2 separate regions of the Homo sapiens genome follow, and region 2 is linked to region 1. The links come from fine-mapping of genetic effects on gene expression. Tissue or cell type: subcutaneous fat. Region 1 holds a variant in brackets; the other region holds the start of a gene. All regions are shown on one strand. Distances are from middle to middle.

Region 1 (8,191 bases):
ACTGCAAAAAGTATTTTTCCCGCACAATGTCCAGCTGCAAGGAAGTAAAGTAATTACACAATAAAAGGAAGTTTCATGACTTAATTCCTTTTCTTCCCTGTTATTAAGTAAATAGTTAATGTTTATTCAATAAATATTTACTACAATTATGGATCCATTTCTTTCTTTTTCCTTTCTGATCCAGCAACACTGCCATTATTACCACTACCACCCAGATACAAATGTCATAATCTGGAAAATGGACCAGAGTGGCCAATGGAAGACTTCCTAAACATCAACCATATTTACACTCTTTAATTGGTTTTATAGGGACTTGGCTCTAAAATAACTGCTTCTGCAAGATAATGATGGTATCAGAAGTGTCCTGGAAAAAAAACCCATGCTCTAGGTTGTGGTGCTATCAGTGTTTACTGATGTGTCAGTAATACTGCTCACTGATTCCTTTTCTCTTTTATCAGTAAGTTATTAACTACAATGAGCAAGCTGTTCAAATAAATATGGTATTTTTTCTTCCTCTTTTTTCTCTTTTTATAACTAGAGTCACGAATATAGATATTTACTCATATTAATTTAATTTCTCAAGATTGTGTGTGGGAGGCAGCTAAAGCAGCACTAGAGGGAAATTTGTAGTGTTCAATGCTTGTATTAAAAGAAAAACAATATCTAAAATCAATAATCTAAGTTTCTTCTTCAGGAAGGTAGAAAAATAAAAGCAAGTTAAACATAAGAAAGGCTGAAGAGAACAAATGTATTTAATATATGTGTGTATATAATATACATGGATTATATATAAGGTATTTTATATAATGGTGTATATGTATTATATATGTATGTGTGTATAATATACATGGAATATGTGTGTGGGGGGCTGTGGGGATGTATACACACACACACATATATATATATATATATCCTATCAGTCTGTTCCTCTGGGGAACCCAGACTAAAACTCATGGATTACATATAGATTATGCTAATAAGTATGTAATATATAGTTATAGAATACATAATATGTCATTTATATATCATGCAAATATATATGTTTGTGTTACATATATATGTAGCATAAATTATATATATAAATATGTATATTTATATATAATATATAATATATTATATATATTTATATATAATATCTAATATATTATATATAAATATATATATTATATATATTATATTTTATATATTTATATATAAATATAAATTTATATATATTTATATATATTATATATATATTTATATATATATTTATATATATTATATTTATATATAAATATATTATATATATATATATATAAATATATTTTAAAAATAAGGAATTGTCTCACAGGTTATGAAGCCTGAGAGGTCTCATGATCTGCAGTCAGCAAGCTGGAGACCCAGGAGAGCCAATATTATAGTTCTAGTCTGAATTCAAAGGCAGGAGAAGACTGATGTTTCAGCTCCAAGACAGTCAGGCAGAGTGAATTCTCCCTTACTCAGCATTTTTGTTATACTCAGGCCTCTAACACATTGGATGAAGCCTACACACAATGGGCAAGGCAATCTGCTCTACTTGGTCCACCAATTCAAATGTTAGTCTTTTCAGAAATACCCTCACAGACATACTCAGAACAATGTTCACCCAAATATCTGGGCACCTCCATGGCTCAGCCAAGTTGAAACACAAAATTAACCATTAAACCATGTTTTATTGAACAATCTGCCCAGAATAGTAAATGAAATCATAGTCATTCAACAAATTTGATAAGTATTTAGTAGATCTTATCATGGATGTGTTCCCATTGTAGTCTCTGGGTTTAGAGTAGTGATTAAAATGGATAAAACCCCTGCCTTCATGGAGGTGACATTAAGAAAGGTAGTTCATATTTCATAGGCAATGACCTTCCTTCAAATGGTCTGTTGAAGAATCTCTAGGCCTTTGCAAAGTTGTCTCATTAGACAGCATCCAAGCATTCTAGCAATTTAGTCAATTCGTCAACAATTACTTGCTGAATGAATGAATGTTAACCATGTTCTTCTTTTCTCATTTCTGAGGCCTGTGTTGTATCTGTGTAGTCACATGAATGTGTCTTACATCTGTGAACATCCAAGGCTCAATGCTGACCCAGCTCTTGATGGTCACTGCTGCCATCCTCTAAGATCCTTGAAAGGCCAAAGGGATCTTGGTTCCCTGGAGTCCTCAGATTAGGAAAGACATTCTATATTTCATGCAGAAGTGGAGATGGGTAGATGGGGTTTGAGTGCACACTCCCCAACTCTCACTCTTTGATGTTATGCTATGAAACACAGGTAAATAGAAAGGGCTGATTCTTTCCAAATAATTTAAAGAGCTGTTATTATAGGTTTATGACAAAAATTATTTATAATACCTGAATTAATCTTCTCCAGAGAAACAGAACTAATAGGATAGATAGATAGATAGATAGATAGATAGATAGATAGATAGATAGATAGATAGATAGAGAGGGGATTTATTATGAGAATTGGCTCATGCAACCGTGGAAGCTGAGAATTCTCACAATATGCTATCTGCAAGTTGGAGAGCCAAGGAAGCCAGTGGCATAGCTAAATCTGAGTCCGAAGGTCTAAGAGCCTAGGGGTATGCTGGTATAACTCTTAGTTCCAGGCTGAAGGCTAGAGAATCTGGAGTTCTGGTGTCCAAGGGCAGAAGAAGAAGAGAACTGCAGCTCTAGAAAGGAGAGAGAAAGTATTTGCCTTTTTTCTTTTCTCCTTTTTTGTTCTATCTGTGTCTTCAACTGAATGGATGGTGCCCACCCACACTGGGTAAGCGTGGCTCTTCCTTACTCAGCCCACTGATTCAAATGCCAAACTCTTCTAGAAACACTCTCACAGAAATATCCAGAAATAATACTTTACCAGATATCTGAGTATTGCTTAACTCTGTCAAGTTGACACCTAAAACTATCACAATTCCTAAAATGTATACGAACGCCAGAAAATTGGAAGAAGGTTGGGAGGCTGAGAATCTAAGTAACATAAACCATGCTATCCTCAAAATTACCTGTCAGGTGACATAGTCTTTGCCATTGAACCAGCCCCATATATCTGATTCCTCTTCCCTTTAGGATGATTTACGTCCTAGGAGGTGCTTCATTCCTAATATAAATAGATTTCTGGTGAACCAGTCTCACGTGTCCTCCAGACATGACTGGTCATGTTTTAGCTCCAGCAGGGCACTCAGGTGCAGACCACACTGGCACCCACACTACACACATAACCCGCTTGTATCTGCACTACCACCTCCTTGAACAAATCAATAATAAACTTGTTTTCTCTCCCTGAAGTTTTAAGACAAATGTGTTCAGTGTCTTGACATATGAGTAGAAAATTCAATCTTGTGAGTCATAAAGGATCTGAAAAGTTGGTTTCTTTAGAGGCCTTTAATTCTAAGAAGTTCATGATTTGAAAAATGTCCTCTGAAAATCTCTGCATCGAGCTTCCTATGTGATTAAAATGTAAAACTTATATTTCTAGACTTTGCTTCATCTTCTTTTAACGAGCCATACCCCGGCAGTATTTAAAGGCCACAACAAAGAGAAAAGTTTCAAACTTGATATCTCCCTTTCTGCCCATCATACAAAATCTGACTTGCAAAGCTCATAGCACAGAATCTCCTAATGCATGATGCAAAAGAAGTGTGACATATCAGTCTCCTTTCTGGCTTGAGCAAACTGCTGAAATTGTCCCTGCTGCCTTTTGGTTGTAGATGCTCCACTTGTGATAAGTTAACTTAGCACTTCCAGGTTTGTAACAAATTTCTCAAATTCTTTTCTTGCTAATAAGTTAACCTCTCCTAGTTATTTTGTGCTTACATGTTCAGTTTTATTGTGTTTTGTCTTTGTACTGAATTATCAACAATTGTCATTAATGAGAGCTAGGCATGGTTCTAAGACAATTTCTCTGATCTGCATAACAGCATAACAACTTGCAAGGCAGATGTTATTCTCTTGATTGAAAGAAATGTAGCTAAATAATAACTTTACTCGCTTTCCCAAGGTCACCCAACCAGAGGCTATAAATTGAGGTTTAAAAAAGTTTTTGCTAAATATCTCATAGTCCCCGTATGTCCATAATACTTAATGCAATAATGGATGATGCCATTACAGCACAACTGCAGTCAGAAAGAAAGAGCGAAATGTTGCGGTTTAGTTAATGCTTTGGAAAAAATGTTTTTAAAACTGGCCTCCACCCAGTTTCCTGTGTTCAACTTGCTGATACTGTTACTTCAGTTGGTTCATCATCTTAGTGATCCTCTTAAATACATTTTGTACAGAGTGCATAGCCCTTTAATCCATTTTTATTCTTTAAGCAGTCTCATTTTGGCATTTAAAGAGTCAGTATCAATTATTCCTAAAATTCTGCCTCTTTATCTAATATAATGTTCCTCTTTCCCTTTTCCCCTTTGTAGGCTGTCTAGTTCTCATGTGACTTGGAAAAGAGACATCATCTGCTTACATCCAGCTTCTTTGCGGTTTCCTCCAGCTTCTTTGTGGTTTCCCCCGCCCTCTCTGCTATTAGGCAGGAGGAAGGTTGGGGGAAGTCATTCACTATGGCTCAGAGACAGCTGGAAGCCCTCGTTTGTTCTTTATCACTGTTTCTTAACACTGTCTGGCCAACTGATTTCCATAAGAGTCTGGTTTCTAAATATTGGCTTTATCATGGGGCACAGGCTTCCTACTTCCCTCCCCTGCTCTAGGTGTTCCAGCCAGTTTGATCTCTTCCTCTGTCCCTGCTGTTCATTCTGCAATCTATTGCAGATGTGGTCTGAAAAAAATGGCTCTCTAGGGTGGGAGAACTAGTGGAATTAATCAACTCCATGATATTTTGGTGTCCAAAGGACCTCATTAAAATGACTATTATAAAATGACAATCAGGAAAACAACAACTAGAACATTTCAAAGACATACATTTCCAA[G/GA]GAAAGAGACAGGAGAGGAAACAACAATAGAAAAAGATGGCAACAAATTTTCCAAGAAACAAGGTAACTCAATCTGTAAAACCCCAGACATGCAGGAATTGGAGTCATCTGCCTGATGGGAAGTGTTCAGAGTGGGGCTAAAAACAGGTGGATCTGTGGAAAGCATTTAGATGTGGCACTTAGACCTTCACACCAAATGTATATACTGCATAACCAGACGTATACTCCCTTCTTTTCCTTGGCAGAAAATTCAAGGTTCAGCCTTGTAGAGATAAGACAACAGATCCAAGGACATCGTGTACAACCAAGGCAACATATGAGGCATGAAAACATTATATTAAGAAGAGTGGTACTAAGAGAAAGACATAGATACACACCATATTAGTCTGCTCAGGCTGCCATAAAAAAACGCCACAGAATAGGTGGCTTAAATAACAGAAATTAATTTTCTTACAGTTTTGGAGGCTAGAAGTCCAAGATCAAAGTTCAGAATGGTTGGTTTCTGGTGAGCATATAAATATAGAGGAGACACAAACATTCAGTCCATGACACCCTCTAACCCGTTTCATTTGCATGGCTCTCAAAATACCAGAAATAAGCCTCATCTCCAAGAGCACAGCAATAAAGATTCCCTTCTGGGGAAACTCAGTAGCCTAACAAAAAAGACCTATCAATACTCACTTTTGGAGAGCTTCTGATGCACCTTATAGTAAGCTCACACGTAGATAAGTCCCACCTATACGTGCAGAACTTCTAATCAATATTCTAGTGATTATTTCTTAAATATGAGCAGACGTTAAAGGCTCATCAGGTATTTATGCCTCTGATGCAAAATAAAAAAGCCAAAACAAACAATGAAATTCTAGGAGAAAGAGACAATTCAGGGAATAGAATAAAATATAAAAGGAAAAAATGTATAATTAACTCCCACAGAGATATAAAATAAGTGTTTATAAAATAAGAGCAACAAGCTACCACAAAGAGATATTGAGAAAATAATAAAAGAGCTTTAGAAATGAAAAATATGCACATATAAAAATCTGTATTGGTTTGGGTTCTTCAGAGAAACCAACAGGAGATACACACACACACACACGAAGATATTTACTATGAGAAATTGGCACACACAAATACAAAGGCTGGAAGGCTGAGAATTTTCAGGATCTGCACTTGGCAAGCCGGAGACCTAGGAAAGCCAGTAGTATAGTCCCAGTTCAAATCAAAGGTCTGAGAACCAGGAGAGCTGATGGTGTAAGTTTTAGCTCAAGTCCAAGTTTGAAGGCAGAAGACCAATGTCCCAGCTCAAACCCCGTTAGGCAAAGAGAGCAAATTCTCTCTTACTTAGCATTTTACTCTATTCAGGCCTTCCACACATTGGACAAGACCCACTTACACTGGGGAGGACAATCTGCTTTACTTAGTATATTAATTTGAAAATTAATCTCATCAAGAAATACCCTTATGGATAACCCAGAAATAACGTTTAACTAAATATCTGGCCAACCAATAGCTCAATCAATTTGACATACGTAATTAACCAAATACACAATATATGTGTATGTATGTATAAATATACCAAAAATAAAAATTTTAATACGAATTCTGGAAGATAGAATTAAGGACATTTTTTAGGATCTAGCTTTTTTTAAAAAAAAATAAAACTATGGAGAAATTTGAAAATTAGAGTATGGGTATAAGAAGTCTAATGTTCAAAACAGCAATACTCAGAAATAGAAAATGTAACACAAAATTTCCAGATAGAATGCATCTCCTGAGTTTCCAACATAGTGAAGGAAAAAAGATCCACACGAAGTAGAGACTTAAGAAATTCCAGAACACCGAGCAAAGAAGTAAACATGAAAGCGCTACAGAAAAAAAATCATTATTTTATTAAAAAGGTCAGAAATCAGCCTGGCATTGGTCTTATTAATAACAACACAAGAAGGTAGAGGAAAATGGAAAACACCTCTTCAAAAATTTAAGAGGAAAAATATATTCAACTTAGAATTCTTCGCCCAGCCCAAATTAATCAGAAATGAGGGTTAAACAAAGAAATTTTCTGACTTGAGGTATCAAAAATTGTACTATCCATGTATCTTTTCACAGAAAGCTGTGGGTGAATTTAATGATGATCTCCACCAAAATAAAATAAGAATGTAAATAAAGAAAAAAGATAAATGGCATATTTGTCAAACTGAGATCTTACACTCATGGAGATCTTACAAACTGGGTGAAAAGGTAAGTTTGATAAAGGAATAATAGGGTAGCCTGAGGCTAGCAACTGTGTGAAGCTATTACAATCATTAGTCCTAAAAAACAGGAACAGGAGCAATTACCAAATACGTGAGTTTTCCAGTAAAGTCTACCGGGCAAGAGATGTGGCCTTTAGCATTGGACACAGTCAACCTGTAGTCACTTCTCAGGGCACAAGCTAGAAGAATAAGTGCCTCAAACTTACTCTTTTCGAAGCTGCCAGCTCCAGCCAGCATCCATCATTGACATAACCCAACAAGAAACCATAGAAGTCAGTACCCTGGGCAAAAGGAAGGGTGAGAAAAGTTTGAAAATAGACCCAAGGGGACAAACAGAAAATATCTCATATATACCAAGAAACAGTGAATCACGCAATAAAGACTTCCCAGGAAATGGTGAAGAACAGTCCCAGGCAGGTTCACTTTAAAATGTGTGTGGTCTGAGACGAAAGTACATTTAACCTCCACAGCTGCACCCCAACTCACAAGTCCAATATTCCTCCAATATTGTGTTCCATTTCCTGCATGATTTTTTAAGTGGAGAAGAAGAGAAATCTGAACACTAAAATAAAAGGCCAACTAGTATAATTGGAAGGAATGATAACTAAAAGAATTCACACTGCAAGAAATGAAGCAAAGCAATATCATGTACCTCCCTGAGAACACAAAATCATTTTTATAAAATTTTTACCACAAAATATTACCTGAATCTAATCGTGAGAAAACAACAGAGAAGGCCATATTGAGGAACATCTTACCAAACAACCAGCCTGTACTATTCAAAAATATCAAAGTCATAAAAGACAAAAAAAAAAAAAATTAACCAATACTGAGGAAAATTATCTATTGGCAGTGACTAAAAAGCAATTATAAGTAAACACAGCACATAATCTTGGATTGAATTTGGACCAGAAGAAAAAAAGTTTGATATAAAAGCATTATTGGAGGATTCTAGCGAGGTCAATTAGGTTTTTCTAGAGAAAAAGTAAGAAGTAAAGCT
Region 2 (8,191 bases), 150 kb after region 1:
TGAGAAACACTGCCTATAGATACAGACAATGGAGCATGGCTCACTTGAAAGCAGTTTAAAAACTTTAAAGGTTATATAAACACTGTGCTGGCCAAAGATTGTTATTACCTTTGCCACCAGTATGTGACCTCTGTCCCACTCCTCAGTATAATTAAGGTGCCAGTATGGGAGATAAATAGATGACTGATTGCTAAGAGGGATAGATAAACAGGCAGACATAGATATTTTTATAGTGGAAGGGGTTTGCCTAGTCTCTGACCTTTCTGCATGCCATCCCCACCATCTTCTAGTTATGGGGCTCTTCTACAATAAAACTTGTTAACTTGGGGTTACAAGTAACCCACTTTCAAAGGAATCTATGGAGTATAATCTATTCTTAAACTGAAGGTGACCTAAATACGCTCACTTAACGAACGCACATCATCAGATTATAGGTCTAAACTACTGAAATTTTTTCAAGAGTCATTTTTAAAAAGACCACTCTTTTTAAAGTCATTAATTCTGATCTTAATCCAAGCCAGGTCAAGCAATCCCACCTAACTAAACAAGTATTAAGACTGGAGAGCCTGATGTCCTAAAAGCCCATCTATGCAGGTGGTACACAGTGCTGTTGAGTAAAATGTCATTTGTCTTGGAAAAGGGAAGCAAAAGTTGCATACCACCAGAAAATGTACATTAAATGGCTTACACATGGGAAATCCAAAATAAATGCTACTGAAGTCAAAAGTGAATCCACAAAAAACAAAAACAAACAAAAAAATACTTTAGCCTGCTTGTGAAATAATTATTCATGCACAATTATACTGCAAGTTTTGTAGCACCATAATTAGAGAGGAAATGACAAAAGAATAAATTAAGAAAGGGACTTTGAAGCCACTTATTCAAATTAGGTAGAACATTTCCATCTGCTGCAAAACAAAAGTTGTATATTTTAATGATCCTGTATTACCATTTACCACCTCTCTTCCCCACTACCACCACCACCACTAAAAAAAGAAAAGGCAAATTAGAAAAGAAATTTCTAAAATTTCAAAATGAAATACTGCAAATAAAGGCCATTATTCAGAAATTAGGGCCTCAGTCAACAATATCCATCGTCCATCATAGGCCGTTGAGGCAAAGGAGCTACTTGAACAAAATATTTTCTTGTTTTATTTGGCTTTCAAAAAGCAAAGACACAGAAGCAAAGTCTCAGAAAGACAAAAGTGCCTGGGATGAACTTACTCGCCACAGTTCAGAATAATTTTTGTTTGTTGTTTGAATAAACATGCATTGATTCCCCTAATGAGTGTCAGGCACAGTGTGGTGCTGAGGAGGTAATGGTGAAAATGACAGCCTTTGCCCTCATGGGACTCCTAAGAGACCAAGGCACACACAACCTCATATAATCCACCATACATGCCCCTTCCAGCCATGTTTATGAAAATCTAGTCCTGTTATACTATTAGACGGTAAATTTTTCCCTTGGTCTGACTCCATGGAACTTCACAGGGAAGCAACTGATACCTTGTAAATAAATAAGTAAACAAATATCCATATTCTCATACCAACAATAACTCATGGGTAAATTTCAATGAGTTTAAAGAAAATTTTGTGAACCTAAGAGCGTATCAAAACGGGTTTTACTTTTGAACCAAGCCGAGCCATATATTTTCATTGCCTGTGGCTATGCAGCGTCAGTAAGCTAAAAATACTTTTCTTTCTTCTAAGTTGGGAAGAGCAAGTTAAGTCCAAACAATCGGATGTGTATCATTTTCTCTCATCTTAAATTTTTTACTAGAAAACACTCAAAATAACTGAAGCAAAGAAGAGGCATCTGTTTCATATCTGCACACACATACACAGAAACATCCCTCTAGCTTGCATCTATCTACCTAGCAATATTAAACAAGCTATATTTGCATCATCAGCAAAGTCTGCCAACATTTCACCACTTACAGCTATTTATTATTATTTTTTGGTTGGGGAGAAAGCTGCATAAGTATTGAAAACTAACCACAAGTAAAAGCTTGCAAAAAAAATATGTATAGGATACGTCCTTAACAAGAGGACATGGTGCTGACTTTGAATTTACGTTAAAAGTAAATTCAAATTCAAATTCTGAATTTACATTTAAAGTAAATTATGTTTGTGAAAATTACATTAAATTAGATTCTAAAATAGGATAGAAACTTTAAGTTCTTCTACAGGTCTTGCTCAAGTTGGGTTTGCTGTGCATGGCAAAGTGAAAACCTGTGTTTCTCCTCTTTGGCTTCCCGAAGCTAACTGTAACATACATGCATCTCTGTGATGAAGTAAAAGCTACTTAGGAAGACAAGTAAACCTGTTTTTAAAGAAATAAACTACTGCAGGATGGTGAATGGTATGTAGTGTGGACTTTTCCCACACATCCAGCATCTCTAAAGACATCCTATTAAATTAAAAGAATAAGAAATAAGAAACTAGCAGGTCCAGATCTAGGTTCCTTCCATTCGACTGGGCCATGACTTTAATTAAGCTGCTGGGTCATGGCTTAATTTTCCCTTGAAAAACAGCACAGTTTGAGAAATCTCTGCCAAACTCTTCATTTTTTAAGCAACTGACAAAGTCAACAAGAAAGCAAATACCTAGAATCCACGGAACAATGCTCCTCAGAGCAGGGCTGGCAGAAGCGGCGGAGGGCTACCAGTTTCCCTGCCCCGATTGCAGCTGGGCCTTTGACAAGAGCTCGGGTAAAGGACTATCTGTGCACCCGCCCACCAAACGCCCAGCGGGACGATGGGCTGGTGCTACGAAGTTCTAAACCTAACCGCTGGGAGGAAGAAGCGGGAGGATGAGAATGTCATCTCCCCTGACACTCTGGTGCCGGCAGTCCTGAAACGCTCACCTCTGACGTCCCTGAAGGTCAGAGGTGGCAACCACAGTGCCAATAGCTCACCAAAGCCACTTTTCCTGCCCGGGTGGAGGCGCGGGGCAAAGTTGGCCACCGGCTGCGCGCGTCCCGTTAGCCGTACCTTGTAACTGGGCGGAGAGGGACTCCTGGTGCTGCTGGTACTTGAGCGCCACCGCCTCGGCTTTCCGCAGCTGCGTCTGCAGCTCGTAGTAGAGCATCGCGCCGTAGAGAAAGCCGAACACGACGGTCAGCAGCAGCAGCGTCTGGAAAATCCGCTTCTGCTTTCGGGAGCACATCCCGTTTCCCATAGTCCCGCCTGGACCCAAAGCCGCGGCCGCCCCCGCCGTCTCCTCCCCTTGGTCCGAGCGAGCGTCTCAGCAGCGGCCGCCGCAGTAGGTGGCCAGACGCAGCATGAGGAGGAGATGCCAGACACAAAAGCCGGCCCGGAGGGGAAGTGGCGCCCGCTCAGCCCCCGCGCGGCGCGGGGCGCGCAGCCATCGACGCCGCCCGGGCAGCTGCAGCCAAACTTCTGCGAGGCTCGTTCTCCGCGAATGCCCGGGGCCGGGAGGAGGCCCTCCGCATACTTCAGAGCCGGCTGCCCTCGCGCCTGTCCCCAGATGCCTCCTGCCTTTTTTCCTTCTTCCCACTTTTTGGCCCCGCTGCCCCCGGGCAGTTCTTGGAGTCCCGCCCTGGCCACTCCCCGCCCTATCGCGGCGGCTCCCACTGCACGACTTTGTTGCCACCTAAGGGAGGGGGTGCGCGCCCAACAAAGGGACCAGGACTCCGGGCCGCGCCCCCGTGCGGCCTGCCCAATGGGTGGAAGGGTGGGGGCCAGCTGTCTCGGCTGGTTTTGGGGACGGCACAGCGGTGTCACTGACGGGTCGGCTGGTGCCTCTGCCGCCCCGCCACCTCCTGCCCAACTTACGTGTCACCCACGGCCCGGCTATTCTGGCCAACGGGATTCCGGGAGGAAGTCCCACTCGGCCTCCTTGCTCATTGGGCCCGTCCGAGCAGACGCTCCCTCCCTTCGGGGAGGCAGTGCCGGGCTCGATTGGATGCCGGCTTTGTCCGTCCGACCCCAGGGCCGCACCTTCCCTCCCAGTGCCGGGGCCGGCTAGGGGCTCTGTGGGCAGCGCGGCCGCCTGGCGCCGGGGTGCGCCCACGTGGAGTCGGAGAGGGTGGGAAGAGGCAGGCGGAAGGGCGAAGGGCGGGGAGCTTTGGGTGGGCGGGGGACTTGTCCGGGCCTGAGTCTGGGTGAGGTTCGGTGAACACGTGTGTGTGTGTGTGTGTGTGTGTGTGTGTGTTCCAGTTCTCGTTCGGAACGCACGTGGAGAGCGGAGTAAAATGTGTGTATGAACGAAAGAATGGATGGCAGTAACTGTGTGCACTCTGCTGAGTACACTTTCTTTCCCTGTCCAATAAACTGATGCGGCAGACACATGGGATAGCTACATAGCACAATCCCGGTAGTCAAACCAGAGATGCCATGTCGACTGCCTTACCCCATCCAGTGTACTAGCCTAGATGTGTGTGTGCCCACAGATGGCCCGGCAGGAGTCGGGAGACTGGAAGCACGCTAGACTTAATGTTCAATTGTCCACGTGGGCTGGGGAAATCGGCTTGCCATTGGCAGAGAGGAAAGAAATGGTCTCACATTTCTCCTCTAGCTGCAAATAGAATAATTTAAAAACAAATCGTACAGACTGAAATGAGTATCCATTCATTTTGTCATATGTATTTGTTTTATTGGTGGCAAAACACATCAGTTACATTTCTAAATTACATTTTAAAGGGCAACAAAGGTTCCCTATGTAAAAACTAGTACAGCACAGGAAAGGTAGTAACCACAAACCTCTTCGAAGAAATGTATACTGCATTTATTTTTTCTGTGTACTTGAGGGGAATAATTAAGGTTATGCACAAATGATAATTTTTGTTTCTGCTGTTGACCTGAATTCTAAGAAAAGTAAATTTTATCTGTCTGTATAGTGTGGTGTAATTTATGATACACTGCATAATTTTTATATTCTAACTGGACTTTAGTCGTTACCATTGCTAATGGGCCTGAGTGCTCAAAATGGGGGTAAATCTCTTTAGCTAAATGCAACAGAAAGACAGTTCCTGGTGCAAAAGTTTTTTTAGGTGGACTCTGAAATTATAGGTTGCTAAAGCCCTAAAATAAACTGAATTTATAACGATGCTACCCTGTGGCATTTATACCACTGTAAAAATAAAGTGTGTCTTGCATGTGCTTTTCCTTAATAAATAATAACTTGCGTTAAATTATTCAAAATGCTTTCGTGTGCAGATACACTGTCTCACTGATCACAGCCAGGGTGTTAGACTTTCATGTTGGTAAAGAAGCCAAAGTTTATCAAAGTGACTATGACAGCTCTAGGACCTTTTAGGTCTTGCATAAAGTTAGTTACTCAGCAAGATTAGAATCCAGATCCAAACCCTGCTCTATGTCTTTTTCTTCAATAGAAACAATGTTCTCATTCTATTAAACAAGTTACAGTAAGAAATTATATCTCCATTAACATGAGAATCTGATTGTAAAAGAAAACAGTCTAAAGGAGTTTGGGAGTTTTGTTGTGTAAATACTACATAATCTTCCTTATTATTAAATCTACCACTTTAAATTCCTCTTTTTTAGTTTGACTCTCAGAAATTAACATTGGATAATTACTGGAATCTCTTTAAAATTCCTCATAACTAAACATTCCTTACTGTTGTCAGAGTACTTTGTTAAACAAACTCTTCCTCCAAAAACACTATCCAAATTTAGGCTGGGCATGGTGGCTCACTCCTGTAATCCCAGCACTTCTGGGAGGTTAATGCGAACAGATCGCTTAAGTTTGGGAGTATGAGACCAGCCTGGGCAACATAGCAAAACCCCTCCTCTACAAAAAAAAAAATATATAAAAATTTAGCTGGGCATGGTGGCGTGCACCTATAGTCCCAGCTACTCGGGAAACTGAGTTGGGAGGATCCCTTGAGCCTGGTAGGTAGAGGTTGCAGTGAGCCAAGATCACACCACTGCACTCCAGCCTGGGCGACAGAGGTGAGACTCTGTCTCAAAATAAATAAATATATAAATAAATAAAGTTTATGGCAATAATCTTGCCCCATATTTGAAGAGAAAATTATCCTAGCCACAAAAGAAAAAGAAGTTGTATAGAGGGTTGGAAAATTATTGCTCATATATTGTACAATATGTATTTTAGAATCTTTGGAAAATTCTTATGTTTCCTGAATGTATGATTCATCTTAAACCTCTGATTCCTTTGCATCTGATTCCAGACTCCAAAGATATTCTTTGCCTAAAGCTGCTGGCTGACTCTACAGAACATAATAAATGCAGGCCATAAAACACAACTCAATATTTTAGTCATAAAATTTGAAAGACAGCAAAAATTATTACCTGAACTTATCCATTATTTCAAATTCAAGAAGGGTATGTAGAAGTACATAAAATTACTAATGGTGGTATTTTTATAATATTACATTTCCAAGGTAAAGTATGCTGCTAGTTTCCTGAAAATGTCAGTATAGAGCTTTTGAGCGGCCAACATGAGGAAGCTATCCAAGGCCTATAAAATGAATTTACATAACATTGCCTTTGGGTAGCAATTATAACATAACAGCTGTTTATACTGGTCTTGGAAGGTGTGTTGTTCATTCTATTTTATTTTTGCTTCTTTGTTATTTTAAAAATAGTATATATAATTATATTTCTATATTCCATATATTTAACAATATATTTAACTTTAAATTATAAACCCTGAAGAATTTTACTGATTTAGTATTTTATTTCTGAGGCAGGAAGAAATTAACTTAAAGATACTCAAGGTCTTACATTTGAGAAGGGCAAATATAACATTTGGGAATATTAATTCTCTCTAACTTAAGTGAATTTGTCATTTTAATCAAATTTGTTCATTTTCAAAATAAGGGAAGGAAAAAATAAAAAGTTGAGAGAGACAGCTGACGTATAATTTCTAAAAGTAAGATTTTAAATTAATAATATTTAGGATCCTAGAGTAAATAATTTCTATTATCTAAATCTTTTATTTAAATTTCTTTACTACAAATGGAACTCAATATTTTGTAATTTGTAGGAGAAATCATCACCTAAGAAAAGGTGATGAATAGTAAATAAAATTTAAAATAGCTTTTCAGTATTAATAAACTAATTTTAATCTTTTCATCTGACAATTACAAAAGTTATTTATCCTATAAAACAATCTTCACTCTATGATGTCTTCACCTTTTTGCCATTTCATCAGTTTGCTGTCCCCTAATGAATACACTTGCCTTGCTGATTGCCACTTTTACCTGACCTGTTTTGAGAGGTAAAGAAAGCTGCATTCAAGGTATTATGTCTTTTTGAACATTTTGTGAAAGATGTTTTGAGACTCCTTTTTCATAGGATTTTGATAATGACCTAGTAGTAATTGTTAGAAGATTAACAAACTAAAAAGTAGGTCTGTGGTTGAATGCATAACTGAGTAACTGAACCCCACTCAATGTATCTTTATGCCTTGTTTACATCTGTCACTACGTTGCCACCTTTGTAATTTTCAACTATATCTGAAGAGGAGGGCAGAGGAGAAAGTAGATGATTTGTTCTTATTTATAAAAATGCTTTTCAATGAGAGAAACCTTACCATCAATATCACTAAGAAATACCTTCTGAGGCCGGGTGCGGTGGCTCACGCCTGTAATCCCAGCACTTTGGGAGGCTGAGGCAGGCGGATCACGAGGTCATGAGATCGAGACCATCCTGGCCAACATGGTGAAACCCTGTCTCTACTAAAAATACAAAAATTAGCTGGGCATGGTGGCGTGTGCCTGTAGTCCCAGCTGCTCGGGAGGCTGAGGCAGGAGAATCGCTTGAACCTGGGAGGCGGAGGTTGCAGTGAGCTGAGATTGCGCCATTGCACTCCAGCCTGGCAACAGAGCGAGACTCCATCTCAAAAAAAAAATAAATAAAATAAAATAAAAATAAATAAATACCTTTTGAATACAGACTACTAATAATGGACGTGATTTAGAAGTCCCTATTTGCCACAGGATGTGTAGCTAGTCTAAAGGAAGAGGAACTATCATTTCAAACCTCTAACAACATTCTAAAGCAGGATATCTAGCCAACCCTAAACTTTTCCAAATTCTAAGGCAGTATACGAAATCATTATGAATATGTTGCTTAATGTTTGTTACAGCTAGCATATAATGAGCTAACTACCACATTTTTTTTTCAGTTTAATTTCATAGGAAGTTAGAAAGAATGGAAAGGGAGCATATGTGAGCCTCAGA

Evidence for each region. PIP is the estimated chance that this variant, and not a neighbour inherited with it, causes the effect.
Region 2: GOLIM4 starts here. The variant in region 1 is fine-mapped to the expression of GOLIM4 in subcutaneous fat (GTEx, PIP 0.93).

What each region holds. Positions count from the first base shown.
Region 1 is chr3:167,937,236-167,945,426 of GRCh38, forward strand. No RefSeq gene overlaps it. Among named protein-coding and RNA genes, the nearest start is that of GOLIM4, 150 kb to the right of the region's middle. The variant G/GA (reference allele first, on the strand shown) is at 4,940.
Region 2 is chr3:168,092,106-168,100,296 of GRCh38, forward strand. It overlaps GOLIM4 (golgi integral membrane protein 4), which reads right to left and starts at 3,819. Exons shown (of 16, transcript NM_014498.5): 1 at 2,994-3,819. The coding sequence starts at 3,180. RefSeq lists silencers at 3,595-3,644, 3,935-4,174 and enhancers at 3,846-4,347, 4,545-4,594.